2 separate regions of the Homo sapiens genome follow, and region 1 is linked to region 2. The links come from fine-mapping of genetic effects on gene expression. A gene starts in region 2. The other region holds a variant in brackets. All regions are shown on one strand. Distances are from middle to middle.

Region 1 (12,201 bases), 18 kb after region 2:
GTAAGGTTTATGCCTTGCTGGGTGCTCTAATCCTCACCCTCTTTCTATAGCTGGCAGAGTCAAGTTTCAAATTTACAGTTAATCTCCAAAGACATCACTCTTTACTTTTTAAAACCTTGTTTTTAATGGAGACATTAAGGTATACTTTGTATAGGTGGAATGCAGGATTGTAAGTCTACAGTTTGTTAAATTCTGATAAATGTATACCCTTACATAACTTACACCATCATCAAGATACAGAATATTTCCATGACCTCAGAAAGTTCTGTGTTTCTTTCCAGTCAATCTTGCCTCACCTATTTGAATTTTCATCACTATAGGTTAATTGTGCCTGCTCTAGAATGTTATGTAAATGGAATCATATAAGATGAACCTTTGTGCCAGGCTTCTTTCACTCAGCATCATGTTTTTGAAAATCATCCATGCTGTCGCATGTATTGGTAGTTCATTATTGCAAAATTGTATTCAATTGTATGAATGAAGCAATTGTTCATCCTTTCTCCTGATGTTGGACACATGGGTGTTTCGAGTTTGGGGCCATAATAAATTAAGCTGCAATTAACATTCTTGTACAAAGCTTTTTGTGGCACATGTTTTCATTTCATTATCTTGGATAAATTCCTAGAATTGAAATTGCTGGATTATAGAATGGCTATATGGCTGGGGGCCATGGCTCACTCCTGTAATCCCAACACTTTGGGAGGCGAAGGCAGGCAGATCACTTTTAGTCAGGAGTTTGAGACCAGCCTGGTCAATGTGGCGAAACCCTGCCTCTACTAAAAAATACAAAAATTAGCCAGGTGTGGTGGTGCATGCCTATAGTCCCAGCTACTCAGGTGAGGTAGGAGAAACCTGGGAGGCAGATGTTGCAGTGAATTGAGATCACGTCACTGCACTACATCCTGGGTGGAAAAAAAAAAAAAGAGAAAAAGAATGGCTATATGTATAACTTTTAAGGAAACTTCCTGTTTTCCAAAGAGACTGTATAACATTATACATTCCCACTAGCACTGCATGACAGTCTGGTTGCTCCATATCCTCACCAACACTTAATGTTGTTGGTCTTTTTCATTTCAGCTATTCTGGGGGGTGGGTGGGTCAGGAAGCGGTATCACAATGTGTTTTTAATTTCCATTTCCCTGATTATTAATGGTGTTGGCCAGATTTTCATTTGCTTATGGGTCACTGTATATCTTCCTTTATGAACTATCTTTTGCTTAATTTTTAAGGGCTATTTGTCTTTTCTTTATTGAATATAAGTCTTTTGTCTGTTATATGCACTGTGAATATTTTCTCCAAGGCTGACTTGCCTATTTATTTTTTCCTGGTGTCTTTAGTAAAAAAAGGTTTACATTTTGATGACATTTGATTCATTAGTTTTTTCCTTTTACAGTTAGTGCTTTCTGTGTATCATCTAAAACATGTTTGCCTACCTCAAAATCACAGATATGATATTTTCTTATAGTTTTAGCCTTTATACTCAATTTTTAGCTGTATATTCTTAGCTCTTAGGCTTATAGCTATTATCCATCTCAAAATAGTTTTGGAGTATTGTGTAAAGTAGGGGTTGAGGTTCATATGCTTGCAAACACGTGTCCACTTGTTCCAGCACCATTCATTAAAAAGACGTTCCTTTCCCTACTGAATTGTTAAACATGGTTGTCTCCACAAAGCTGAGTAGGCATAGTCTTTGCCTTCAAGGGCTTATAGTCCTCAGAATAACTTTTGTACAAAAATTTATTGCTCACTTTTCACACAAAAATAGCGCATTTAGTCCAACTATTCTGATGCATATAAATACTATTCTTTTAGAAAGGATAAAGTTCACTTGTCCCATCCAAGAATAGTTATATAAAGTAAACTAATTAATGCAAATTAGTGTAATTGTAGTTGATGTATTGCCTTGAAGGAATGCAGTGCAAGTAACAGTTTAACTTGAGAGAGTTCTCTTTCCTTTGTCCTCAGAAGAAAAAAACACTTAAATATATTCAGTTCTTGGATCACTATTTTTATTCAGGTTTTAAAAATTGTACCTTTGACCTTAGAAGTTTCAAGCTGGAGTAAATAGACATTTTATTTTTGAAGGATTTAAAAATATTTACATAACTTTTATATATAACCAGTGAAATTAATTTTTTAAAGAATTTTCTTTCACCATTAATACATTTTTTAATAATTTCAAAGCATGAAATAAATTGTTAACATTGTATAGCTCTTAAATCTTTCCCTGTGTAAACATTTATACTCCAGATATTGCTGCTTTAACATTTTTAAATTTTATTTTATTTTGAAAGAGTATCTCACTTTGTCACCCAGGCTGGAGTGCAGTGGCACAAACCATGACTCCTGGGCTCAGTTGATCCCCTCAACTCAGCCTCCTGGTAGCTGGGACAACAGGCAAGTGCCGCCACCATACCTGGCTAATTTTTGTATTTTTGTATTTTTTGTAGAGACAGGATCTTGCCATGTTGCACAGGCTGGCCTTGAACTCCTGACCTCAAGCAATCTTCCCACCTCAGCCTCACAAAGTGTTGGGATTACAGGTGTGAGCCATTGTGCCTGGACATTTTTTTATTTGTAAATAATAGCGCTTATGACTGTCACTATGACTCTAAATGTTTTTAGATGGCAAAGAGATGAGTTATGATAGAAAGGGTATTAGATTAGGATGCTAAAAAAATCTGGGATGTAGGATTCTAAGCCATTTACAAAGTCAAGATAGTAATATCTTTGTGCTTTGGCTTCCTTTGGTGTAAAACTGGAAGAATAATACCAGATTCCAGAGGTGGTAGAAGGCATAACATGGCGGTTAAGAGCTTTAACCACTGTGGTGGGTGGTTAAAACCTTTAACCAGCATGGTGGTTTAAGATCAGGATACTGAAGTTCAAATCCTGGCTGTCCAATTGTGTGACCCTGGGCAGATTCCTTAAGCTTCCTGAACCTTGGTTTTCTCATCTTTAAAATGGGGATGATAATAGTACTACCTATCCCATGCTTTTGTGAGGATTGAGTCAGTCCATCCTTCAGACGCTTAGTGCCGTTGTTCTTTGATCTCCTGAATCTCTGCATGTCTTGTGAGCAGAGGCAGACATTGATTACCTTTTATTCTGCACTATCTTTTCAAGGATTACCTTTTATTCTGCACTATCTTTTCAAGAGAACAGCTTTGGAGGTAGAAATATATCTCCTTCCAGAGCAAAGGGTAAGCATGCTTACTACCCAGTATAATAAAGATGTCTCCCTTCAGTGCTGTGAGCAATGAGCTCCTTCAACCCTGAGCAGGAGTCTTGTGTCTTCTACCAACATCCATAAAACGATGGCAGGCAAACTTGCCCATATCTGAGAAGTTTCCCAGAATGTGGACCTCTCAGTGCTAAAAGCAAGAAAGTCCTGGGCAAACTGAAATGAGTTGCTGGCAAACTGGAATAGGTTGGTCACCCTAAAGTAGGGTCAAATCTCAGAGCCTCTGCAGTTTTGGAGAAGCACGGTCTTTGCCACATAGGAAGCAATCAAAACTTGTAACTTGCATTGGTAGTATTACATAAAGAAAAAAATCTGGCATAAGTTGAAGTGTTTTCAAACTATGAAATAGTCTATACATATTATATAACTGAATAAATTTGATGTGCTGGCAGATTTAGAAATTAATCTTAAAATTAAATAATAAAATAGCTATGATGAGCATAGCTTTTATATATAAATTTTGACACAAATTTATAGATATAAAATATAAGTAACCTTTTATTTCAATATAAATGTTTTAGTATCATTCTATTTATGAATTCTTACTATATTAAGGTGGGTGTTTACATGTTCCTTTCTAAATCTTTTGATTGTTTTTATCTAACTTAAAATATCCCCTTTCCTCCTCTTAGGCACTATGATAACATCCCTTTGCCCTAGAGGACACTTGCCAGTTTGCATCCTGTGCTCTTCTCTTTGCTGGTTTTCTCTTTCACTCAGGGAGCAGACATGTGATTGGATCCTCACTTTGAGATTTAATTATTTGTGAGAGGCAAGCCATATATTTATTCATTGATTTCTTGCAAACTACAGCTCACAATGCTGACAATACCAACTGATAGCAACATTTTTAATCTTTTATAACTTTTTGTAGAGGTTATTGGCACATTATACACAAACTGACCTGATTAATTTGTTAAACTGTGTGGGTCACAGTCTAACAATCTAATTCCAAATTTAGTTCTTTATAATAACATTTACATGTATATAAGGCAAAACTGGTTAATGTGAAAAATACATGTACAAAGTAAAATAAACTACTGAAAGGATTTCAGCCTTTGGAAGAGGTTCATGATTCCCCCTCCCCTCCATTTTAATAAGTAAAATCAGTTATATTGTTTATAAAAGGAGAATTGACTACTTTTAGTCTGTATTGTAGTCAAAGTTCATAAACTGGCTTCACTTTGTATGATATTCACATTTGAACTGTGTATCAATGTAGACATAGAAAAGTCACAAACTTGAAAGATTTAAAAATAGCACTATTAGGAGAGTCTAGATCCACAGATTATCTTTAGCACCTCAATCAATAGAGATAAAAATGTTACAAATTAGGCATTCTATCATATTCTTCTGCTTTTTACTGAGTGATGATGGATTTTAGTGTTAGTTTGTTGTTCCATCTTTGGTTTCTTTTAGTCTATGATCATTATTTTTATTTTATAGGCTGATAGAACGTTACGGCTGTAAAAAGCTCTAGCATTTATCTAGTCAACTCTCCCATTTTGCCGATGAGAAAACAGGCTCAGCAAGGTTGCATCACCCAGGTCACAGAATTAACTAATGGTTGAGCCTCATCAGGAACCCAGGCACAGTAAAGTTGGTGAGAATGTCATTTCCTATTACTTTTAAAATTTCTCTTTCATATATTTAAATCTGGCCTTCACATATCAGGTCAACTAATACGTACAATAATGACTGAATATCTAATGTGGTATCTGGTGGTGAAATGGGTTTTTGAATGTCTATGAACTGACTACATTATTATAGGTGTTTTGGTATCTATCAGATCATATCTCCACCATTACTTATGTACTTGTTTTGAATTCTTTCTTAGTAGACATACAGATTGTATTACATTTGGTTTCTTTTGTTAAGATCAAGAAAATATGGACTCTAGTATAGGGAATATGTTTTGTGTGAATGAAATTTGTTACTTATTCAGAGATTGAAATGACTATATTTTACAAAAGATTTTAAGTACTATGTTTAGCAAGAAAGGTTAAAGGTCACTATGAATAAACCATTGTTCAAAGTAATTTCCATGAATTATGTAATTAAAAATTCATGCAACTCTATGAAAGAACTACTGCATTCTATAGATGAGGCTGAGAGAGGTTGTTATTATAGATATCTCATGGGGGTGAAGCTTGACAGAACCAAGATTTCAGCCCAGACGTTAGGTTCCAGAGCCACACTTAATCATAGCAATATAAAATAAACTAGAAAGTCTGCTTACCATATAAAATTGGATGAAAGAGCCAACAGTTAAGAGAATAGAATTCAAATTAATATTGATTCAATAACTAGGTATAGATTAACAAGATTAAATATAAGAGGAAAAGTTTAAAGTTATTCACCCATGGAAGAAAAGCATACTTCTAAAACAGGAGATGAAAAAGTAAACTTTTACCAATCCTGGCAGAAAAATACGAGCCAGTCATGACTTGCTATTATAATTTTTAAAAAGTATAATAAAAATATAGAATTTATGAACTAACAGTTACATTTCCAGCATGGTTAGAATTTGTAAAATTGCAGTTTCGTCTTTTCTTCTCAATTTATAATCCACTCCATTAGTAAAAAGCTATAACCACAAATCTCTGTGACAAATTTTTTTCTATCTTGGGCTTTATATGAGGCTGTTATGGAACATCACCCCTAAGATCCTAGAGAGACTTTTGCCTGACAGAATGCTCTAAAGCTCCATCTTAGATCCTTCTGAGATTTTAGCACAAAATTTTACAGTCACGCCTGGATTCGATGTTTGCTCTGAAGTTCTATCTTAATTTGAGAATTTTGGAGAGGCCGAGAATAAGAAACAATTTTTTAATTGAACTCAGCAAATTTCGATTCCTTTATATTTAACAGTTCTTCTTTAACTGTTGCCTCTCCTTTATATTTTATTACCTAAAACACACCAGGGAGTAGTTTCAATACTCTTTGTGGAACTATCCTTAGGTAGACCACATTGCATTGAGTATGTTTTTGATTTTCCATGTGGACCACAGGTGACAGTGCTGCTAAACTTTTTGCTACTCAGTAGCAAGGATCCTCTTTCCTCTAGTTTCCAGCAACATTTTCCTCACTTTTCTTCAAGCCCTCACTGATAGCCTTCCTGAAGGCCCAAAGGCTTCTGCTAACAATTCTGAAAGTGAGACATCCTGAAGATGCTTGCAACTGGAAGCTGTCCGCTAACCGCATTGCTTGCAGCTGATTCTCTCTTGAAGGGAGTATTGAGCAAGTCACCTTCATGGTCACCATATATGACATTCATGCCAAGCCATGTTCTTGCTTCCACCAGTCTTTCTAGACTTCTCTACTGCCATTGCCAGCATCTCACTCTATATCTTTTGCCACACAAAGCTTGCATTACCTCAATATACCTTCAAATCACATAAAACCATAACCTATTCCAGGTTGAGTTAGGTGTCTCTGAGCACCCTATAATACTTACAATACTGTAAGTACTTTCATAGCACCTTTGAAAGATCTTTATTACTGTATTATGGCATTCTATGGTACCTGGATTAAAGTCTTGGCTCTGACACTAATTAGCTTTGTGACCTTGGCCAAGTTATTGGGTCCCTCTGAGGCCTCATCTTTAACATAGGGATAGATGAAGTCTGAGCTTCATCTTTAACATAGGAATAATAATATCATTTTCTCATAGGATTATTGAGATTACATGTGATAATACAGGTAAGTGCTTAGTACATAATCTAGCACAGAGTGAATGCTCAATAAGTATTAGCCATGATTATTAATGATCTGAACTAATGGACAGGATATGTTCACCGAGATTGCTGGATTGCAGAGCAAAACTGACATAAAGGTGACTCTGCTTCATCCCTCAAAGCACTTCTGTTTATAGGGAGACAGTGTAGATCCCTACTTTCTCAAGAGGCAGGATGTAAACTGAAGTCATCAGAATAATCTTTGTCAACCTTTCCCACCTTCTGTTTTAGGTCTACAGGACAATCCTTGGTTCTGTGACTGTCATATTTCCAAAATGATTGAGTTGTCAAAGGTCGTTGACCCTGCTATAGTGCTTCTGGATCCACTGATGACTTGCAGTGAACCTGAGCGCCTCACAGGAATTTTGTTTCAGCGGGCTGAATTGGAGCATTGTCTGAAACCATCAGTGATGACCTCAGCCACCAAAATCATGTCTGCTCTGGGCAGTAATGTTCTACTGCGGTGTGATGCCACTGGCTTCCCCACCCCACAGATCACATGGACCAGATCTGACAGCTCGCCAGTTAATTATACAGGTATTTTCTTAATTCAGCCCCATGATCAAAGGAGTTTACTAAGCTTTGAAGTTAACATCATGTGTTGTGTGATTTGAAATTAGCTAGTTAACACTAATAAAATATTTCAAGATTATTGGGTGCAAGGGATTTTAAAGGTACATTTTATTCATTAGTATTCTCCTCAGTTTATCTAACTACCTAGATAAAATTAAACAATCTAAACTCTTTTTCTTAGGTAGAATGAAACAATGCAGTGGATGGATCAATGGCAGACAAGGTCTTTGTCTTGCTTCATCAACTTGGATACAGCTTACTTCAAAATGTACAGCCTTTACAATTTTTTAAAAAGGGCCTTTTGCTGGTTGGGTGCGGTGGCTCACACCTGTAATCCCAGCACTTTGGGAGGCCGAGGTGGGTGGATCACCTGAGGTCAGGAGTTTGAGACCAGCCTGGCCAACATGGCAAAACTCCGTCTCTACTAAAAATACAAAAATCAGCTGGGCTTGGTAGTGTGCACCTGTAATCCCAGCTACTCAGGAGGCTGAGGCAGGAGAATTGCTTGAATTTGGGGGGTGGAGGTTGCAGTGAGTTAAGATCGCACCACTGCAGAGTAAGACTGTCT[T/TA]AAAAAAAAAAAAAAAAAAAAAAGGACGGGGGGCTTTTGTACAAGTCTCTCATTTTTGAATAATTATTTAAATAATAAATTACATGGACACCTTATTATGAATCAAAAAGTATAATTTTTAGAAATATTGATTATATAGACTTTTCAGATCCTAGTGTGACAATGTGTATGCTTTGTGCCCAATTTCAAGAGTGATATTCTGACAATTAAAGTGATATATTTTTAAAACTCTTCAATATTAAACTAAAATTCAGGTTGAAATAATGAAACCTGATGGAAATAAAGAAGTTAAGGCCTAATGTTCCTATATATAGGTAGTCAATGGTCCACAGTTTCAGCTAGTGAGTTAAGTTTTGGGCTACTGGGCTACTGTTCTGCGCATTATTATTATTCTTTGAAAAGCTTCTGAAATCAAGGAAGAATGAAAATATACCCAGATATCAGAGTTTAGGATAGCAAAATTCTGATTTTTTAAAAAACTATATGTTATTTGCAAACAAAAGAATCCTTGATTTGCCAGTTTACCTAAGTTAAATATAAAATAAATTATTCGGAATACAAATGATGACTCTGCCATGCCAGAAAATGATCTGCTGTACCTCTGGCTATAGAGATATATGCATTTTATTACCATGAAAACATATAATAAGAAATACTTAAGTAAGATCTTATGAAAAACATTCCATAGAATCACAGTGACTTAAAATTGAAAGGGACCTTTGAGATTACTTCGTCTCATCCTCTTATTTTATAAATGCAGAAACAGAAGCCTAAAGATATGAATTGACTTATCTACAACCAAACACTGTTTAGTGGGCAAAAGTTTCTAAAACCCAAGTGTCCTGATTCCCAGCCTTTTGTCTTTTAAAAATACTATTCCCTGTACAGACCTCACAACACCTGGCAGGTCCTAGACCTTGATGTAAGCAGTTTGCAGAACTATCACCCACTGTCAGAGACTTGCAGGGTGCCATTTCCCTCTTGGCTTCTGTGAGAGGATGCATGTAGAGTGGATAGTTGTTTCCTCCTCAGTTGGCATGGTGGCTTGAATTTTCTTTTTGTTCCTCACAGACTATACATTTGTTTTCTTCCAGTAATACAAGAATCTCCAGAGGAAGGAGTCAGATGGTCCATAATGAGCTTGACAGGCATTTCTTCCAAAGACGCTGGGGATTACAAATGTAAGGCCAAAAATCTGGCTGGGATGTCAGAAGCTGTGGTTACTGTGACAGTGCTTGGCATTACCACAACTCCAATACCACCAGACACTTCTGAAAGAACTGGAGATCATCCTGAGTGGGATGTCCAGCCGGGATCTGGAAGATCTACATCTGTATCTAGCGCATCATCATATCTTTGGTCCTCTTCCTTCTCCCCCACATCTTCTTTTTCTGCTTCTACTTTGTCTCCTCCCTCTACTGCTTCCTTCTCTTTATCTCCTTTCTCCTCCTCCACTGTTTCTTCAACCACAACTCTGAGCACAAGCATCTCAGCAAGTACCACCATGGCCAACAAGCGATCATTCCAGCTCCACCAAGGTGGGAAAAGAAATTTAAAGGTGGCAAAGAATGGAAGTAAGCTTCCTCCAGCCAGCACAAGTAAGAAAGAAGAGCTGGCATTGTTGGATCAAACAATGCTTACGGAGACAAATGCCGCAATAGAAAACCTCAGGGTGGTCAGTGAGACTAAAGAGAGTGTGACATTGACGTGGAATATGATCAACACCACACATAACTCTGCAGTGACTGTGTTGTATTCCAAGTATGGTGGGAAGGACCTGCTGCTGTTGAATGCAGACTCCAGCAAGAACCAAGTAACCATAGATGGCTTGGAACCCGGTGGGCAATACATGGCCTGTGTCTGTCCAAAAGGAGTGCCTCCCCAGAAAGACCAATGCATCACCTTTTCTACTGAAAGAGTTGAAGGAGATGATTCTCAATGGTCTCTCCTTCTCGTGGTGACCAGTACTGCCTGTGTTGTTATCTTACCATTGATTTGTTTCTTGTTGTACAAAGTTTGCAAACTGCAATGTAAATCAGAACCTTTTTGGGAAGATGATTTGGCAAAGGAGACTTATATCCAATTTGAGACCCTGTTTCCCAGGTCTCAAAGTGTAGGTGAGCTCTGGACACGAAGCCACAGGGATGACTCAGAGAAATTGCTGCTTTGTTCTAGGTCAAGTGTGGAATCTCAGGTGACTTTTAAAAGTGAAGGTTCCAGACCAGAGTATTATTGCTAAGGTTCTGCAGCTCAGGTGCATGTGAGCTACAAAACTAGCATCTAAGGGTATAATTGACCCTAGGTTTGGATGACTTTTGGACAGACTTTCACATTGTACATGAAAATCACAAATGGAATGCTTTTAAGTATGTTTAAAAAATACCATGAGACCTCTGAACTGAAAAGACAAATAATGTTGATTTTTTTTCTTGTGTGGAAAAGGTCTACAGAAATAATTTTTAGAGTGGTGCTTAATAAATTATTAATACTTTTTAGGGTAATGTTTTAGTTCTTAAAAATAAGTTCATGTGAAAGTAGCAAGTGAACTCTGTATTTAAAAATATAGTTTTTTGAGTCATGAGGAAACATTAGCAAAACCAGCTAAGCCTTGATGTTTATTCATGTTCGAAGTGCATTATAGCATTTGCTGTGGATGTTTTCTGACATTGCCTAATGGAGAGCGTGGGATCATAAAGGATTTTGTGTTCACTAAGGTTAAATCTAACTCACGGGAGAGAGAGGGCTCTGTCTCTTGGTACCATTATGCATTGTGATACTATAGAGTTGTGTTCATATTTCTTGTAAGAAAAATTTTTGCTTTTCTTTAGAAATATAGGTATTAGCAAAAGTAAGTATACAAAGAGGATTATGACAAATAGACCATTTCTTTAAAAATGGTAACTGTTGCATTTAAACACATCGACTGACAGATTATATGGATATTTAAAAATAACTTTAAATCAATCTTTTAATATTTTGCTGTTTGCTCTTATGTTCTCCCTTCTTTCTTCCTTCCTTGTCTTCCCTCCCTTTCCTTCCTTCATTCTTTCTTTCTTCTGCTCTGTCAGAAGATATACAAGTAGCCAAAGCATCACGAGCCAAGCTGTTTGTCTTTTGCCATATTGTCTTTTGATTCTCTTGATAAAGAGAAAGCTTTTGAAATTACTTACTGCCCTTTGAAAGTCTGTTTTACAACCCCAAAGGATATTTTAGGACTTTAAAAGGGAAGCTTCAGTGGATTCATTTGGTTAGATTCTTTTCCTAGGTTAAAAACATCGGGGAACTTAAATACATAGGAAAGGAGTTCACAAATAAAATTTAGTTTTTTTAGAAAGAGAATATTTTAATAACTGTAGTATACTACAAGAAACATCTCATGGCTTTAAGATTAACGATAGCGATAAGGCCCACTCAAGCATCTCACAGTGGTGATATTACATGTCACTTAGCAGGATGCAACCTGGCCTAGGGATTTCCAGAAGACAAGGCCACCTCAGCACAGATGCAACTTTCATAAATTTTAGAACAAAGCCTAACCTTACTAGATTAAACTTGCTCTATGAAAGAAACACTTGGTAATTGACCCAGACTGAATACATGTATAAGAAATGGGAAAGATCTCCCAAACTCTGAGAACGGTCCTCAAATAGAAGCTCTCCTAGTCAGTTGGTCATCTGACCTCTGACTATATCCGGCCTATGACACCAGCCAGCTCCTGCTTTCTGTCTTGTAAGAGCACTGCTGGAATAAACTACTTGAGCATTAGATGGTGTCTAAGACTCATCTTTGATGACAGGGATAAATCACCCTTGTGAAGCTGGCTAGCTGGGACCACCCAAAACCTCAGAACACAACTAGCAGTGAGGATGAAATTTGAGTAAGCCAATGAGTGATGACACCCATTTCTACAGGAGGATCAAGGGAGAGTGGCCAGGGCCTGGCTCTGATCGAGAGATTGGGTGAGGTCTGAGGAACACTCTACAGTGGGTCTGGCAGTTTTTGTTCTGTTTTCACATGTGTTGCTGCCTTCTATCTTTACTTTGTGCCTCTGTTTTGGAGGTCACCACCAGGTAAAATTT
Region 2 (16,905 bases):
CCTCCCTCTACCCTTCAACAAGCCCCAGTGTGTGTTGCTTCCGCTGTGTGTCCATGTGTTCTCATCATTTAGCTCCCACTTATAAGTGAGAACATAAGGTATTTGGTTTTCTGTTCCTGCATTAGTTTGCTAAAGATAATGGCCTCCAGCTCCATCGATGTCCCTGCAAAGGACATGATCTCATTCCTTTATGGCTGTATGGTATTCCATGGTGTATATGTACCACATTTTCTTTATCCAGTCTATCATTGATGAGAATTTAGGTTAATTCCATGTCATGTCCATGATTGCTATTGTGAATAGTGCTGCAATAAACATACATGTGCATGTGTCTTTATAATACAATGATTTATATTCCTTTGGGTATATACTCAGTAAAAGAATTGGTGGGACAAATGGTATTTCTGTCTCTAGGTCTTTGAGGAATTGCCACACACAATCTTCCACAATGGTTGAACTAAGTTATACTCCCATCAAGAGTGTAAAAGTGTTTTTTTCCCACAACCTCACCAGCATCTGTTATTTTTTGACTTTTTATTAGCAGCTATTCTGACTGGTATGAGATTGTATCTCATTGTGGTTTTGATTTGCATTTCTCTCATGATCAGTGATGAGCTTTTTTTTTTTCATGTTTCTTGGCTGCATGTATGTCTTCTTTTGAGAAATGCCTGTTCATGTCCCTTGCCCACTTTTTAATGGGGTTGCTTGTTTTTGTCTTATAAATTTGTTTAAGTTCCTTGTAGATGCTGGATATTAGACCTTTGTCAGATGCACAGATTGCAAAAATTTTCTCCCATTCTGTCGGTTGTCTGTTTACTCTGTTTATAGTTTCTTTTGCTGTGTAGAAGCTCTTTAGTTTAATTAGATCCTATTTGTCAACTTTTGCTTCTGTTGCAATTGCTTTTGGCATCTTCATCATGAAATCTTTGCCTGTGCCTATGTCCTGAATGGTATTGCCTGGGTTCTCTTCTTGAGTTAAAAACCATTTTTATTGATAAAACAGCTATTTTATACTCTATTCTCTCCTTGTTTTATGGATGTATATCTCCTGTTATTTCTGTGATATTATGTATATATTTATACTTCCTTCTGTTTACCACATATTTTTGTTTCCCCTGAGTTCTTGCACTGTTTTTTTTTTTTTCTTTGCCTGTCAATGTAAAAGTTTTCTTAATGTCTGGTGGTCAGTGATTGTCCCTTCATACTTAAGAGTAATGCATTAAAAATGTTGATTGTAAGCATGGAGATGCTCATTAGCAAGATGTTTCTTTTGGGGGAATTTCTAATTGTCTCTGTAGTTATTATTACTATTATGACCACCATCATCATTATTATTATTTGCTCTCACTGTGATTATCTGCTAATCAAAAAAATTTTTTTTCTAACTTCCAAACTCAATCTGGAAACAAATACAATCCTATCTTGAGCTCAGTGAATTCTAGCACAGGCCATTTCTGCTGGATATATATTACACATGATGCAGATAATTTTGTAAAGGAGCTCTCTTGTATCTTGTTTAAATGGAAAAATTATATTTTTCATGTTGCTCCCTCCTGATTGCCTGCTAAAATGATGGAATGGAGGTTTGGGGGAATTTCTAACTGTCTAGGTAACTATATCTTTAGGTATTTTATTCTGGGCAGATCAGTTCCTTTCATGTTCCTGGGTGGGAGGCACAAGTCTATCTCCAAGTTTTTTCACACTCAGTGCAGGGAGGGAGCAGCATACAGGTACCCCTCTTTTCAATACAGTACTGAAGTGCTTAGCTGAACCTGGTGTCCCTGTGTTCTGAGTTTCCCAAATTAGCCTTCTTTTTTCTTTATACTGAGCCTCTGGAAGTCTTCTAGGGAGAGGAAGGGGAAGTTACTGAGTAGACTGAGTGGACAGGGGTAAAGATTTGGAAGTCTACTTTCTTTGTAGATTTCAACCAGTTCTATTTTGAGCTCCATGTGCACCCCCACATCTAGAGTTTTCTGGTACCCTTTGTTACTAGAATTTCTGTAGCTCTGTAGTATGGATTGGTCTGTATCTGGTTTTCCCTCATAGTTGGCTCTTTTTAACGTTTATTTATTTACTTATTTATAAAATTATTCTCATGTTTCTTACATAATTTGCCACTTATCCAATGGCCATTTTTTCCATTAAAAATATGTATTATCTAATCTCTGATTCTCTGTCCTTATGGTTTTATGTCTTCTTTAACCTCTGTTCCATAATTTTAGCAGGCAATCTAGGGAAGCAATATAAAAATATAATTTTTCCATTTAAACAAGATGCAAGAGATCTCCTTTACAAAATTGTCTGCATTGTGTGTAACATATATCCAGCAGAAATGGCCTGTGTTAGAATTCACTGAGCTCAAGATAGGATTGTATTTGTTTCCAGATTGAGTTTAGAAAGTTAGAAAGTTACTTTTGTTAATTTAGCAGGTAATCCCAGTAAGAGCAAATAATAATGATGGTGATAATAATAATAATAGCCATGCCAGGAGTTCATAGCATAATGATGTGAAGTGGGGTGGGGTGGGTTTTTATCTGTCTTTCATCAAAGTCAGCTTTTGTACTCTCCCCTAGCACGCAGAAAGAAAGAGGGCATTCCTTATGTGTGTGTACCATTCTTAAAAGCAATGTTATATATTCTTGATATACCCATTTCACAAGGTCTTATTATCATCGAGGACTTCAGGCACTTGAAAAAAGAACATTGAAGGCAGAAAAAAAACTCAACTATTTCCTTTATGTCATCAAAAACATAAACATATTCAAATTCCAACCCAGATAGATTTTTACCCAACTTTAGATATATTAATATTTAAATATTTTAGGTATTGGGCTTGGTGAATATTTATTTCTTTTCAGATGTCTGTGATCATGATCTGCATGTTTCTGGTGGCATGGTCCCCTTATTCCATCGTGTGCTTATGGGCTTCTTTTGGTGACCCAAAGAAGATTCCTCCCCCCATGGCCATCATAGCTCCACTGTTTGCAAAATCTTCTACATTCTATAACCCCTGCATTTATGTGGTTGCTAATAAAAAGTAAGTAATGTCTAAAATGCTTGCAGTACAAAATAAAACTGATATAAAAAGAATGTTAAGACTTCTTGGGAGAGAAGTGACAGAAACCCACTTCAATCTAGCATAAAGGTCATTTGCCTCATGTGACTGGAGCAGCATCTAGGACCTTAAATGCTTAGAGCTCCAGATTTGTTACAGACTCTTCCCACACAGTGGCAGAGATGATTGTGGGCAACCCCAGACCCAAGTTCTACCAGCTAAGCATCCCCAAATGCCAATTGCATCTCAGATGGCTCTCTGGCAGAAAAGAGCCTGGGATGTCAGTGGTCAGCTTAGTTCAAATGGTTACCCCCACCCCAAATACATGGAATAGTGGTTTCCAAAGAAAAGAGGGATTCTATAACTGGAAAATGGACAAGGCAACATTGGGCTCACTTGGTGGGTAGCACAGATGTATATTTACAAGAAATAAGACATATCATTCAAATGCAAGGGAAAAGTTTAGTCCCAACATAAAAGGCATCTGGATACTAGAGAATTCTTACCTCCTCTCTTTTTTGGGTTTCTTAGCAAAATGTTCCTTTTCTGCCTCCTCAGTGAAGTTTAGACGGAGTCTCTCTCTGTCACCCAGGCTGGAGTGCAGTGGTGTGATCTCAGCTCACTGCAACCTCTGCCTCCAGGTTCAAGCAATTCCCTGCCTCAGCCTCCCGAGTAGCTGGGATTACAGGTGCCCGCCACCACACCCGGCTAATTTTTGTATTTTTAGTAGAGATGGGGTTTCACCATCTTGGCCAGGCTCGTCTTGAACTCCTGACCTCGTGATCCGCCCGCCTCGGCCTCCCAAAGCGCTGGGATTACAGGCGTGAGCCACCGCGTCCAGCCGAGGTCAGGTAATTTTATCCTGGAATGGCAATGTTTGGAAAAGCAGCTTTAGCTACAGGTATGTGAAGAAACATAAAATTTTACAGACCAAACAGACCACATAAGAAGAATGAAGAACACATTTTAAATTCAGAATCTGCTGGTAGTTCTTTTGGAAAATTCTTGCTAGGAAGAACAGATGGATGAAATACACATTGTTAGTTCAAATAAACAACTCATGGCACTTGACATTAGTAGCATCCTTTTAAATACATATAATTATTTACTTTTAGTAGATGTCTTCAATCTGTAGAATCAACAGTGCAAAATTGACCTTTAACTGTACCATATACCTTATATATTTATAAAGTTTCTCAACAGGAAATCTATAGAATCAATAGTGCAAAATGGGCTTTAACTGTACCATATACTTTATATATTTATAAAGGTTCTCAACAGGACATGTTAAAGTTGGAGGCAGAAATTTATCCAGAGATGTAAATTGGCAGTAGTGGCATCTTAGCCATATTTGAAAATGCTTTAGAAGTTCCAAATCATTATGGGTTAATGCCAGATTTTCCTTTTTTTATCGTAGGTTTCGGAGGGCAATGCTTGCCATGTTCAAATGTCAGACTCACCAAACAATGCCTGTGACAAGTATTTTACCCATGGATGTATCTCAAAACCCATTGGCTTCTGGAAGAATCTGAAATAAGATAAAAGGACACACTATCAAAACACTTTAGTTTTTTGACAATGCTTTTCTTTTAAATATGAGCCCATTTAGATCAAGTGCAGACATGGATCATTGTCCTATGAGAGTGTAAGCTCCTCAAGCACAGCTCGTGCTTCTGTTTGTGCACTCTGGCTGCTGTAGTGTATGCTTCTCTGTGTCCTGATATATCAACTTATTGCTCATCTCCTTTGATGAATTAGGCATCAGAGGTTAAGGTCCCCTTTCTTTCTCCCTATTATGGCATGCATTACACTGTACTGATGACCTTTAACTTGCCTGGCTCCTCCATTAGAATAAAAGCAGTCACTAATTTAATGTTAGAATAAATGAATAATTCTAGATAATTACTGAAATGAGTTGTTGGATGTTCCCAGTTAGAATAGAAAGCATTTTTTGAATTTCAACATTTTAACATTTAAATCAATTAACTTATGTTATTAAACAAAAATAAATGAACATTAAACATGATTGTTTCTAAATAAAATGTTAAGTCAATGCATATATATTATATAGCATTATGACCCCTGTGCATATTTTGATGTTTTCTGCAATTTTGAGTACCATTTTTCTGCATATATATTCCATATATTTGCCAACAGAGTTAACTTCAATCAGAGTGGAGATTTTTATATGTTTGTTCTTTGATGTATCCTTAGCACATATACCCAATTCTGTCTGGCATGTAGTAGGCACTCAATAAATATTTTTTCAATGTCAAATGAATTTGTAGACTTCACATATTTGTCATTCTAAATGACTGTTAAGCATAATACAATATACCATTGTTTAAATAGTAGACATTTAAATTGCTTTCCAGTTTTTAGTTTCATGGATATACCACTGAAAATATTTCAGTGCAAATATATTTTTTCTTTTGGAGAAGTTATTCTATTTGAGTGTTTCTTTTCAGACTAGAAATACTGGATACAAATACAAAAACACTATTATTTTTGCTAGCTTGCTTTATGGAAAGATTGAATTAGTTTTCACTGATACTGGCAGTGTCTAAGTGAGCTTTTCACTGCATATTCCTGCTCATAGTCCTGTATATATTTAAATTATGAGTTATATACTCTAACTTAAAGTCATTTTATTTCACATTTCTTTAACTGCTAGTGAGGCTGTGTATCTTTGCATATTGTATTTTTTAATCTCTATTTTTTCTTCCTATAAATTGTCTCTTTAGCACCTTTGGCTACATATTAAGTAAAATACAGGTATTAGTTTTATGTGTACAGTCTTCTACGTATATGGAAAGGTAAACTGTCATAGTAATCTACCTTATCTCCTAACTCTCTGACTTTCCCACTGCAATCAATTCATACAATACAACCTCAATCAATACAATTTCATAGCTAATCTTTTAAAAATAAAGTTCCAATGCCCAAATTCTTTGGCTAAAAACCTTCACTCACCCACCAAGTAAGTATAAACCCCTCAGCTGGATTTTCAAGGCCCTCTTTAACATACTTCAAGAGGGACTTTTCAGCTTTTTGTCTCTCTTCATGGCCAAATTAAAATGTCTAGTGTTCCGAGAGAGCTCTGAATGCTTTGTGTCACTAGGTCTTCGCTCATCCTGTCTATCATAGCCGAGCCTTTTTACAGGGAAAGCATAGTGAAATCTGCACCCAAAGTCCCAGAGCCATTAAAAGGCCAGGACAACTTCTGTAATAATGTCTAGAAAAATGGACTCAGAGTTCCAATTTGCAAGGCTGTGAACTCATTTCCAGCGATAAGCAAGAAGCAACTTTGCCTCAAATATAAAGGACTTCAACAGTGTACAGTAATTATATTTCAATGCTATATTATTTATTTTTTAATTTGCTTATATGATAAAACTAGGAAGACCTGGCTTTGGTTACATAGTTCCCTCTGACCTCTTAGTTTGCTAATTTCTGATGTTTTTATCTTTAAACAGCGTTTCTATGCTCAATTTGGCACGTCTTGCTTCCATGTAAGTCATAACATCCATGAAATTAATGATTCAAAAACCCTTGGTCACTTGGCGATCAGAGCTTTACCCATCCAATTTCTTTTTCCTCTTGTGCTCAAAAACTCGAGGCCACCACCTCTCACTGCATCTCCAGCACTGGGAAACCTTAGGGTTGTTTTTAAATCCCTTCTTCATCCTTACGTCTAATCAATCATTTCTCTCTCCTGGGTGTTTCCTGAAGCTGCATTATCCTAACGATTACTAGCACAGCAGTCAAGGCTGTAGCCTAATGGCTGCTCACCTGGACTATAACCACAGACATCCACCTGAAGCCTCCTCCTTTCTTCTTGCTTGCTCTATCTAGAAGCTTCCTCCTTTCTTCTTGCTTGCTCTGTCTAAACCTTTTCTCCACACAGCCGCCAGAGAATTCTTCCTGAAAGGATAAGCTGATATGCCACTCCCAAGCCTAACTTTTATTGCTCCCATTGCCTGTAGGCTGAGAGTAAGCTCTCCATAGGGAATCTAAGGGTTTCCTTGATAACTTCATCCCCGCTTATCTCTCCAGCTTTATCTTTTTTAACTTCCTGCCTCAAAATCTTATGCCTGAGCAACAAGAAGTGCTTGAAATTCTCTGAGGACAATACACTGTTTCTCACTTCCCTCCCTTTGTTCCCACTATTCCCTTTGCTTGCAATGCAACTTTCTGGATTTTCCCATAATACATCGTCATGCACCCTGTAAAAGGCAGCCAGGCACCACCCACCCTAGGAAGTCTTGCTTGACTAACACAGGCTGGGTTTGATGCTCTTTTCTCGTGCTTCTTTAGTAGTCTGTTCCTCCCTTTATCGTGTGAGTTCCTTATGTGTAATAACTGTCTTATTTATCTTTGTACCCCTCAATGCTCAGCAGAGAATAAGTACTCAGTAAATATTTGATGAACAAACGAGTTGTGCAGAATCTGAAAACCTGCAGTATTTTATTTTAATTGAGCACAGTTTTTCAGACTGTATGGTTTTTATATACATTCTATTGGTTTTAAATAACATTTTCTATAATATGCTTATTTTTATAGAATTAATTTTCTTTTAAAAAGGTTTTTAGTTAAAGAGGATGGTTAGAAGCAGCCACTAAGAAGGTTAAATGACGTATATTTATTACTTAAATCCTTGATTGTCCCTGTGGATTCTCCACTCTATGAGTGTGGAGATACTTTTAAATTTAATTACATTTAATTTTTATTTTCTGACAGAGCCTAATATAGCTGAAAGAATTAGAGTTGATCTTCAAATATGGCTTTGATGCTGATAACTTGGGAAACTATTGAACAGAGATAGTTGCCTGCATTAAAAATAAATGTGCTGGGATAAACCTTCCACACACTGAGATGACCTGGAAGAGTCTCAGAACACGTTCTTATTGGAGAACTTAGTCCTGCCACATCAGTAGTGGATTGAAGCATTTTCCCTATAAAATCTGTGTAACTGACTTGTTTTACTTTACTTTTAGAGATAGCCAGTATGTGGCAACATCGATAACTCTTTTCTAAATCATTTTTATGTCATGTGCTTCTATTTTTAAAACTAAATTTTGTAAAACTGAATTAGTAACACATTCTGGCAAAAACCAAATGCAAAACATTTTATAATGTTGTAACATGTAAATAATCTACAGAATTTTCTTGCATCTGCCAAGACTGAATTATTTTACATTAAGTATATTTTTAAGGTGTAGTGGCAAGTACATCCAGAAGAAAGGGATTTAATAGGCATTTTCTTGCAAATCTAGTTACGGGTAACTATTGAAATTGCTTGTCATGTGTTTGATTTTCATTTTCCTTAGAATGTGTTACTTTGCTGAAACTGTATTCAAAGGCTGGATCAATTGATCTCCTGCAAGATACACTTGAAGGTTAAGTAACTACAGATCTCAGCTAATCCCGTGTAATCTGCTGTTACTAAATGGCTGTTTGTATTCCAGGCATACCAGGTTCTGAATGCTTAGGATTCGGTTTTTACCTTTTGTTTAAATAACCTCTAAAAGGAGCAATGCATCTCTTTGCATGTCTGTGCATTGTCCTTAGCTTTTTGGAAGGAGTGGGCTGTTTGTGTCCTTCACAGTGCACCTGTGATTATCACGGCAGAAATGACGGCTCAGGATCAAGGTATGCTCCTCTGCTTGTTACTAAGTGTTCTCATTATTTTGACAAAAAGGACCCAAACAAGAAAGCCTACTTTTGAAAGCAAATGTTTGGGGATCAGAAATCACAGAAGAGAATGTTTAGTGTCCATAAGCTTTAACTTAATTGTTTTAACACTGGTCACCTACTCCTTCACTGTTTTCGTTTTGAGCAGTTTAACTCTCAAAGGCCTCTCAAGGTATTGGAAATTTCTAAACACATTCTATGTTCCAAAATTTTTATTATGCTCATGTTCACAAATTGTTGCTTGAGATCAAACGATTTAAAGGTGCATGGCCAGCTAAGCCCTTGATTATAGAAAGGCTAAGAGGGCAGGCTGAACAGGAGCTGCGTGACATGCTCAGATCCTTTGCTTTCATGGCTCTCCACTTCCTTTGAGAACTATTCATGCCAATTGAATGGCAGAAAGAAAGATCTCAAGAGTGAAGTTAGAGAGGTTAATAGTTAGAATTTTTCATTTTAAGCTGATGGAATTTACAAAATAAAGAAGATTGAAAAAGATACTGTCTGTTTCAGACACTGCAGGATCTCACAGAAGTTATTCAATCTCTAGGTTGCTTTAGCATCTACTTGTGTAGTGAGAAGAGTTATTTACTTATATTGTGCATGAGGCCTTTTAGATATGTTAAATGCAAAACAGAACTCTTGCTAGCTAAACACAGTAGAACTTGAATTTTTTTTTTGAGAGGTTATTTAATAACAAAATCAGGTTATTTGTGACTTGGTTGAAGTAAACGGTGTCTCAGATAAAATAATTTGTTAAAAGAGTTGCCCAATTTATGTCTTATAACTTTAAACAAATAAATAATAATAAATAAGACATATTTGTGAAAAGCTTATCTTGTTATTGTATAAACTTTAGTTAACCAATTCTTGGTATTTTTTGAGATATTCACTGGGTGGTTAAAGACAATGAAGAGAATGTAGCAAGTTAAAGACCTACTTGTCCAGGGACGTGTAGCAGTGAAGGATCAGGCCAGGGTACTTTTGAGAAACTATCACAGAAATGTTTCCTTCTTTGTGGTGACCCCATTATTGATGGATTTTATAAAAATTATAGAATATTAGGCCTGGCAAGAAATAATCTAGTTCAACCCCTTGTCAGTTTATAAGTGAAGAAACTAAACTGTATGGAGACCAAATGACTTGTCCTAGATCATATAATTGTGTTGATGTAGTAACTAAGTTCATAAAGATGCTAGATCTTTTAGCGTACAAACTAGACTTTCTTCTATGATAGCATGCTGAGATACTTATTTTATTTATTTATTTATTTTGAGACAGAGTCTCACTTTGTCAGCCAGGCTGGAGTGCAGTGGCACAATCTCGGCTCACTGCAACCTCCATCTCCCGGGCTCAAGCAATTCTCCTGCCTCAGCCTCCCAAGGAGCTGGGATTACAGGCGTGTGCCACCATGCCCAGCTAGTTTTTGTATTTTTAGTAGAGATGGGGTTTCATCATGTTGGCCAGGCTGGTCTCAAACTCCTGACCTCAGGTAATCCACGCACCTCGGCCTCCCAAAGTGCTGGGATTACAGGCGTGAGCCACCGCACCCGGCCAATACTTTCTTAATGAGTAGAAACTGCTACCATTCTGGTATAAAGTAGTACTGAAATCTGTGATATAAAATAGAGATGAAAAGTAAGAGATATCCCTAGAGGATTTCAAAGATTCCATGAGGTCTTTTCCTGAAGTTATAGAAAGGACATAACACTACCACTACATTGCAGCTTTATGCTGCTTACGTGTGTATACATTATGAGCTGGTTTTTCAAATCCACTGATTTAATGTCATATGTTTCACTAAAGGGTTATTTTATTGTAATTATTTACTAAATTTATAGTGTGCTATAATTTAGATGATACTTTGCAAAACTTCTTATTGTTCATTTTTCATAATTCAGATGAGTATCTCATAGGAGATAAGTCTTTTTCCAGGCTAAAATGAATCTAAATTCTCAGATTCCTCATACTTTAAATTTACACATGGGACAGTGTTGTCTTCCTTCCTTCCTTCCTTCCTTCCTTCCTTCCTTCCTTCCTTCCTTCCTTCCTTCCTTCCTTCCTTCCTTTCTTTCTTTCTTTCTTTCTTTCTTTCTTTCTTTCTTTCTTTCTTTCTTTCTTTCTTTCTTTTCTATTTTGAGATGGAGTCTCGCTCTGTCACCCAGGCTGGAGTGCAGTGGCGTGATCTTGGCTGACTGCAACCTCTGCCTCCCAGGTTCAAGCGATTCTCCCACCTCCGCCTCCTGAGTAGGTAGGATTACAGGTACCTACCACCGCGCCTGGCTAATTTTTGTATTTTTAGTGGAGTCGGGGTTTCGTCATGTTGGCCAGGCTGGTCTCAAACATCTGACCTCAGGTGATCTGCCCACCTTGACCTCCCAAAGTGCTGGGATTACAGCCATGAGCCACATTGCCCAGCTGGGACATTGCCCAGTGTTGTTTTTCTATGCCTGTTTTATATGTGCCAACAAACAAGATCAAAATGTGACTTGCTCAAGGTCAACTCCTAATTTCTGGTTTATTCCTTAGGCAGAAAGCAATGTGCAAGTCACGTTATTAAAACAGAGTTCAACTTTAAACATGTACTGTGAACACTTTTTTTTTTCACCTAAATAAATTATTCTCTGAACAAGGATTGATTTATTATTTTAACAGGGGGTTCTTTTAAAATGGGCCATTTCCTAAAGAGGTGCACTTTAAGTTGGACAGAAGTGGTTTTGAAAGGTGGCTGTGAAACCCACTAGCTGGGTGACCTTGGAAAGTTACTGAATGTTGGTGGGCCTCAGTTACTTTCCATGTAAAACCGAGGTTGTTGACAGTAGCAGCAAATACCTACTGAGTACCTATTCTGTGCCAGGAAGTTGTAGAGTTTTACATCCATTGTAATTAATCATCCATAACAGTGCCATATGGGAAAATGAGGTTGAGACACTGGTGAAGTGGTTTTCCATGGCCACAGAGGAGGTGGCAAACCTTAGACCTTGGTTAGATTTGAACCAAGGCCCTCCTCGGCCTCCCAAAGTGCTGGGATTACAGGCGTGAGCCACTGCCCAGCTGAAAATTGATACATTTTTCAAATGAGAAGTATTTTTTTCAAATGGGTGTTGGAAAGTGAGTTTCCTCACATTGTTCATGTTGTGACACTAGGTTGGTGCTATGTAATGACATGGATATGAACGAGCTGCCTACGAACCTCCCCGTGGACACTGTGAAGCTTCGCATAGAGAAGACTGTCATCCGCAGAATCTCTGCGGAGGCCTTCTATTACCTGGTGGAGCTCCAGTATCTCTGGGTGACTTACAATTCCGTGGCCAGCATTGACCCCAGCAGCTTTTACAACCTGAAGCAACTGCATGAGTTGCGCTTGGATGGGAATTCTCTGGCTGCTTTCCCTTGGGCATCTCTGCTGGACATGCCCCTTCTGAGGACCCTGGACTTGCACAATAACAAAATAACCAGTGTGCCAAATGAGGCGCTCAGGTATCTGAAGAACCTTGCCTACTTGGATTTATCAAGCAACAGACTCACCACATTGCCACCAGATTTCCTGGAGAGCTGGACTCATTTAGTTTCAACACCTTCTGGAGTCCTGGACCTTTCCCCAAGCAGGATTATTCTTGGTAAGCTCGCAAGCCTCTGGGCTTTTCATCTATAGTTACTTTGCTATGCATAGCTTTTTTTGTCCAGTCTTTTAAAATTTGTTGGATTTGGCTTTTTACTCTGTAATTGCACTTTTACTGGAATAGTACCTTATTAGTTAACCTAGGTCAAGTTACCCTTTCTCCTGTGTAAGGTGTAAGAGCTGTGTGTGTGTGCATGCATGTGTGTACATACATGTGTGGAAAAGTGGAGAAGAACTTGCATCATAAATGGAGAGAGGACCATTTCTCTTAAAGAGCATCCAGCTGAGAGACAGAATCAACCAACTGCATAGACTCTTGTGAGCACAGCATTGCTCCATACTCTGGTACAAAGTTCTGCTCAGTTTGCTTTTCAACTCTTCATTAGGTTCTTCAGGAGCAGGAGAGGGGCACTGGCATCTTTATGCGATAGCAGTGGCTTCATTAGTTAGGAAGAATAGCTTCTAAATTTCCTTAATCTAAAAAGAAATGGTGGAAACACCAGTTATTTTACTGGCCCCAAATGGTTCTCCTAACTGATTTGGTCTCTTAGTTTAGCTGTGACTAGTTTTGGAATTTTGAACTTGGTCTTGTTTAGGTTCTATGTGTATTTCTCTGGTTCTTTTTATTATTATTATTATTATACTTTATGTGCAGAACTTGTAGGTTTGTTACATAGGTATAAACATGCCATGGTGGCTTGCTGCACCCATCAACTTGTCATCTACATTAGGTATTTCTCCTAATGCTATCCCTCCCCTAGACCCCTACCCCACAACAGGCCCCAGTGTGTGATGTTCCCCTCCCTGTGTCCATGTGTTCTCATTTTTCAACTCCCACTTATGAGTGAGAACATGCAGTGTTTGGTTTTCTGTTTCTGTGTTAGTTTGCTGAGAATGATGGTTTCCACTTTCATTCATGTCCCTGCAAAGGACATGAACTCATGCTTTTTATGGCTGCATAGTATTCCATGGTGTGTACATGGCACATTTTCTTTATGCAGTCTATCACTGATGGGCATTTGGTTCGAAGTCTTTGCTATTGTGAATAGTGCTGCAATAAACATACATGTGCATGTGTCTTTATACTAGAATGATTTATAATCCTTTGGGTATATACCCAGTAATGAGATTGCTGGGTCAAATGGTATTTCTGGTTCTAGGTCCTTGAGGAATTGCCACACTGTCTTCCACAATGATTGAACTAATTTATACTCCCACCAACAGTGTAAAAACGTTCCTATTTCTCCACATCCTCTCCAGCGTCTGTTGTTTCCTGACTTTTTAATGATCGCCATTCTAACTGGCATGAGATTACATCTCATTGTGGTTTTGATTTGCATTTCTCTAATAACCAGTGATGATGAGCTTTTTTTTCATATGTTTGTTGGTTGCATAAATGTCTTCTTTTGAGAAGTGTCTGTTCATATCCTCTGCCCACTTTTTGATGGAGTTGTTTGTTTTTCTTTTTTCTTGTAAATTTGTTTAAGTTCCTTGTAGATTCTGGATATTATCCCTTTGTCAGGTGGATAGATTGCAAACATTTTCTCCCATTCTGTAGGTTGTCTGTTCATCACTTTGATGATAGTTTCTTTTGCTGTGCAGAAGTTCTTTAGTTTAATTAGATCCCATTTGTCAATTTTGGCTTTTGTTGCCATTGCTTTTTGGTGTTTTAGTCATGAAGTCTTTACCCATGCCTATGTCCTGAATGGTATTGCCTAGGTTTTCTTCTAGGGTTTTTTATGATTTTAGGTCTTACATTTAAGTCTTTAATCCATCTTGAGTTAATAAGGTGTAAGGAAAGGGTGCAGTTTCAGTTTTCTGCATATGGCTAGCCAGTTTTCCCAACCCCATTTATTAAATAGAGAATCCTTTCCCCATTGCTTGTTTTGTCAGGTTTGTCAAAGATCAGATGGTTGTAAATGTGTGGTGTTATTTCTGAGACCTCTGTTCTGTTCCATTTGTCTATATATCTGTTTTGGTATCAGTACTGTGCTGTTTTGGTTACTGTAGCCTTGTAGTATATTTTGAAGTCAGGTAGCGTGATGCCTCCAGCTTTGTTTTTTGCTTAGGACTGTCTTGGCTATATGGGCTCTTTTTTGGTCCCATATGAAATTTAAAGTAGTAGTTTTTCCTAATTCTGTGAAGAAAGTCAATGGTAGCTTGATGGGGTTAGCATTGAATCTATAAATTACTTTGGGCAGTATGGCCATTTTCACAATATTGATTCTTCCTATCCATGAGCATGGAATGTTTTTCCATTTGTTTATATCTTCTTTTATTTCCTTGAGCAGTGGTTTTTAGTTCTCCTTAAAGAGATCCTTCACATCCCTTGTTAATTGTATTCCTAGGTATTTTATTCTCTTTTTACCAATTGTGAATGGGAATTCACTCATGATTTGGCTCTGTTTGTCTATTATTGGTGTATAGAAATGCTTGTGATTTTAGCACATTGATTTTGTATCCTGAGACTTTGCTGAAGTTGCTTTTCAGCTTTGGCTAAGATGATGGGGTTTTCTAAATATACAATCATGTCATCTGCAAACAGAGACAATTTGACTTCCTCTCTTCCTATTTGAATACCCTTTATTTCTTTTGCCTGATTGCCCTGGCCAGAGCTTCCAATACTGTGTTGAATAGGAGTGGTGAGAGAGGACATCCTTGTCTTGTGCCGGTTTTCAGAGGGAATGCTTCCAGCTTTTGCCCATTCAGTATGATATTGGCTGTGGGTTTGTCGTAAATAGCTCATATTATTTTGAGATACATTCCATCAATACCTAGTTTATTGAGAGTTTTTAGCATGAAAGGGTGTTGAATTTTATAGAAGGCCTTTTCTGCGACTATTGAGATAATCATGTGCTTTTTGTCACTGGTTCTGTTTATGTGATGGATTACATTTATTGATTTGCATATGTTGAACAAGCGTTGCATCCCAGGGATGAAGCCAACTTGATTGTGGTGGATAAGCTTTTTGATGTGCTGCTGGATTCAGTTTTCCAGTATTTTATTGAGGATTTTCATGTCAATGTTCATCAGGGATATTGGCCTGAAATTTTCTTTTTTTGTGGTGTCTCTGCCAGGTTTTGGTAGCAGGATGATGCTGGCCTCATAAAATGAATTCCTGTTTTTCTTTTTTTCTTTCTTTGTACCTCTGGTACCTCTGGTAGAATTCAGCTGTGAATCCATCTGGTCCTGGGCTGTTTTTGGTTGGTAGGCTATTTAATTACTGCCTCAATTTCAGAACTTGTTATTTGTCTATTCAGGGATTCAACTTCTTCCTGGTTTAGTATTGGGAGGGTGTATGTGTCCAGGAATTTATCCATTTCTTCTAGATTTTCTAGTTTATTTGTGTAGAGGTGTTTATAGTATTCTCTGATGGTAGTTTGTATTTCTTTGGGATCAGTGGTTATATCCCTTTATCATTTTTTATTGAGTCTATTTGATTCTTCTCTCTTTTCTTCTTTATTAGTCTTGCTAGCGGTCTATCAATTTTGTTGATCCTTTCAAAAAACCAGCTCCTGGATTCACTGATATTTTGAAGGGTTTTTTCTGTCTCTATCTCCTTCAGTTCTGCTCTGATCTTAGTAATTTCTTGCCTTCTGCTAGCTTTTGAATGTGTTTGCTCTTGCTTCTCTAGTTCTTTTAATTGTGATGTTAGGGTGTCAATTTTAGATCTTTCCTGCTTTCTCTTGTGGGCATGTAGTGCTATAAATTTCGCTCTACACACTGCTTTAAATGTGTCCCAGAGATTCTGGTATGTTCTGTCTTTGTTCTCATTGGTTTCAAAGAACATCTTTATTTCTGCCTTCATTTTGTTATGTACCCTGTAGTCATTAAGGAGCAGGTTGTCCAGTTTCCATGTAGTTGAGTGGTTTTGAGTGAGTTTCTTAATCCTGAGTTCTAGTTTGATTGCACTGTAGTCTGAGAGACAGTTTGTATGCCTTCACCCTAAAGAGGCCTAGAAGAGCTGTGGCAAGATGAGGGCGTTTATAGCCCTATCTTATCCATATGAACAGGCACCCCTCATGCATCCATTTATAGGCTCTCCACAAGGGTCGCATTCCATTCCCAGAATTATGAACATCTGCTTTTCTGAGATAGGAATCTTGGTGATGTGAAACCTCCCTGACTGCACATCCATTCATAGGCTCTCTGCAGGGGGAAGCACATTACACACTGTTGGCTCATTCTGGCAGTCCAACCTGGCATTGTCTTTACACAATCCTGCATGCAATTTTGTACTTACAATTATCAGAAGCATTTCATCTTTTATTCCATAGCAATAGTTTCAGGGGGTCTCCCTACATCTCCTCATTTTCTCTGATTTAAATGAACCATAGCAATCATAGCTTGGCGCTGATCATGATTGGATTGAATAATATTTTTTCCAATTTTACACATGAACAATAAACCAATAGCACAAATTATACACAGAACAAAATTACCGATAGTGGATCCTCCCAAAGATTTTACTCATTGAATGGGGTTGAGATTAGATAACCCCTCAGAGATACCATCTAAAACTTCATCACTGGGTAAA

Direction of the effects. Positions count from the first base shown, and alleles are read on the strand shown. Sizes are in standard deviations (SD) of each study's normalised expression.
In carriers of allele T in region 1, the expression in prefrontal cortex of the gene that starts at base 8,497 in region 2 tends to be higher than with TA alone (moderate effect, 0.44 SD a copy in BrainSeq).

What was found. PIP is the estimated chance that this variant, and not a neighbour inherited with it, causes the effect. A credible set is the group of variants that fine-mapping cannot tell apart.
Region 1: its variant is the best candidate, but not a certain one, in a credible set for the expression of LRIT3 in prefrontal cortex (BrainSeq, PIP 0.60).

What each region holds. Positions count from the first base shown.
Region 1 is chr4:109,860,429-109,872,629 of GRCh38, forward strand. It overlaps LRIT3 (leucine rich repeat, Ig-like and transmembrane domains 3), which reads left to right. Exons shown (of 4, transcript NM_198506.5): 3 at 7,213-7,518; 4 at 9,217-11,887. The coding sequence ends at 10,361. Among named protein-coding and RNA genes, the nearest start is that of LRIT3, 18 kb to the left of the region's middle. The variant T/TA (reference allele first, on the strand shown) is at 8,123.
Region 2 is chr4:109,839,611-109,856,515 of GRCh38, forward strand. LRIT3 (leucine rich repeat, Ig-like and transmembrane domains 3) reads left to right here and starts at 8,497. Exons shown (of 4, transcript NM_198506.5): 1 at 8,497-8,707; 2 at 11,894-12,366. The coding sequence starts at 8,592. RRH (retinal pigment epithelium-derived rhodopsin homolog) reads left to right here. Exons shown (of 7, transcript NM_006583.5): 6 at 2,859-3,037; 7 at 4,473-5,332. The coding sequence ends at 4,587.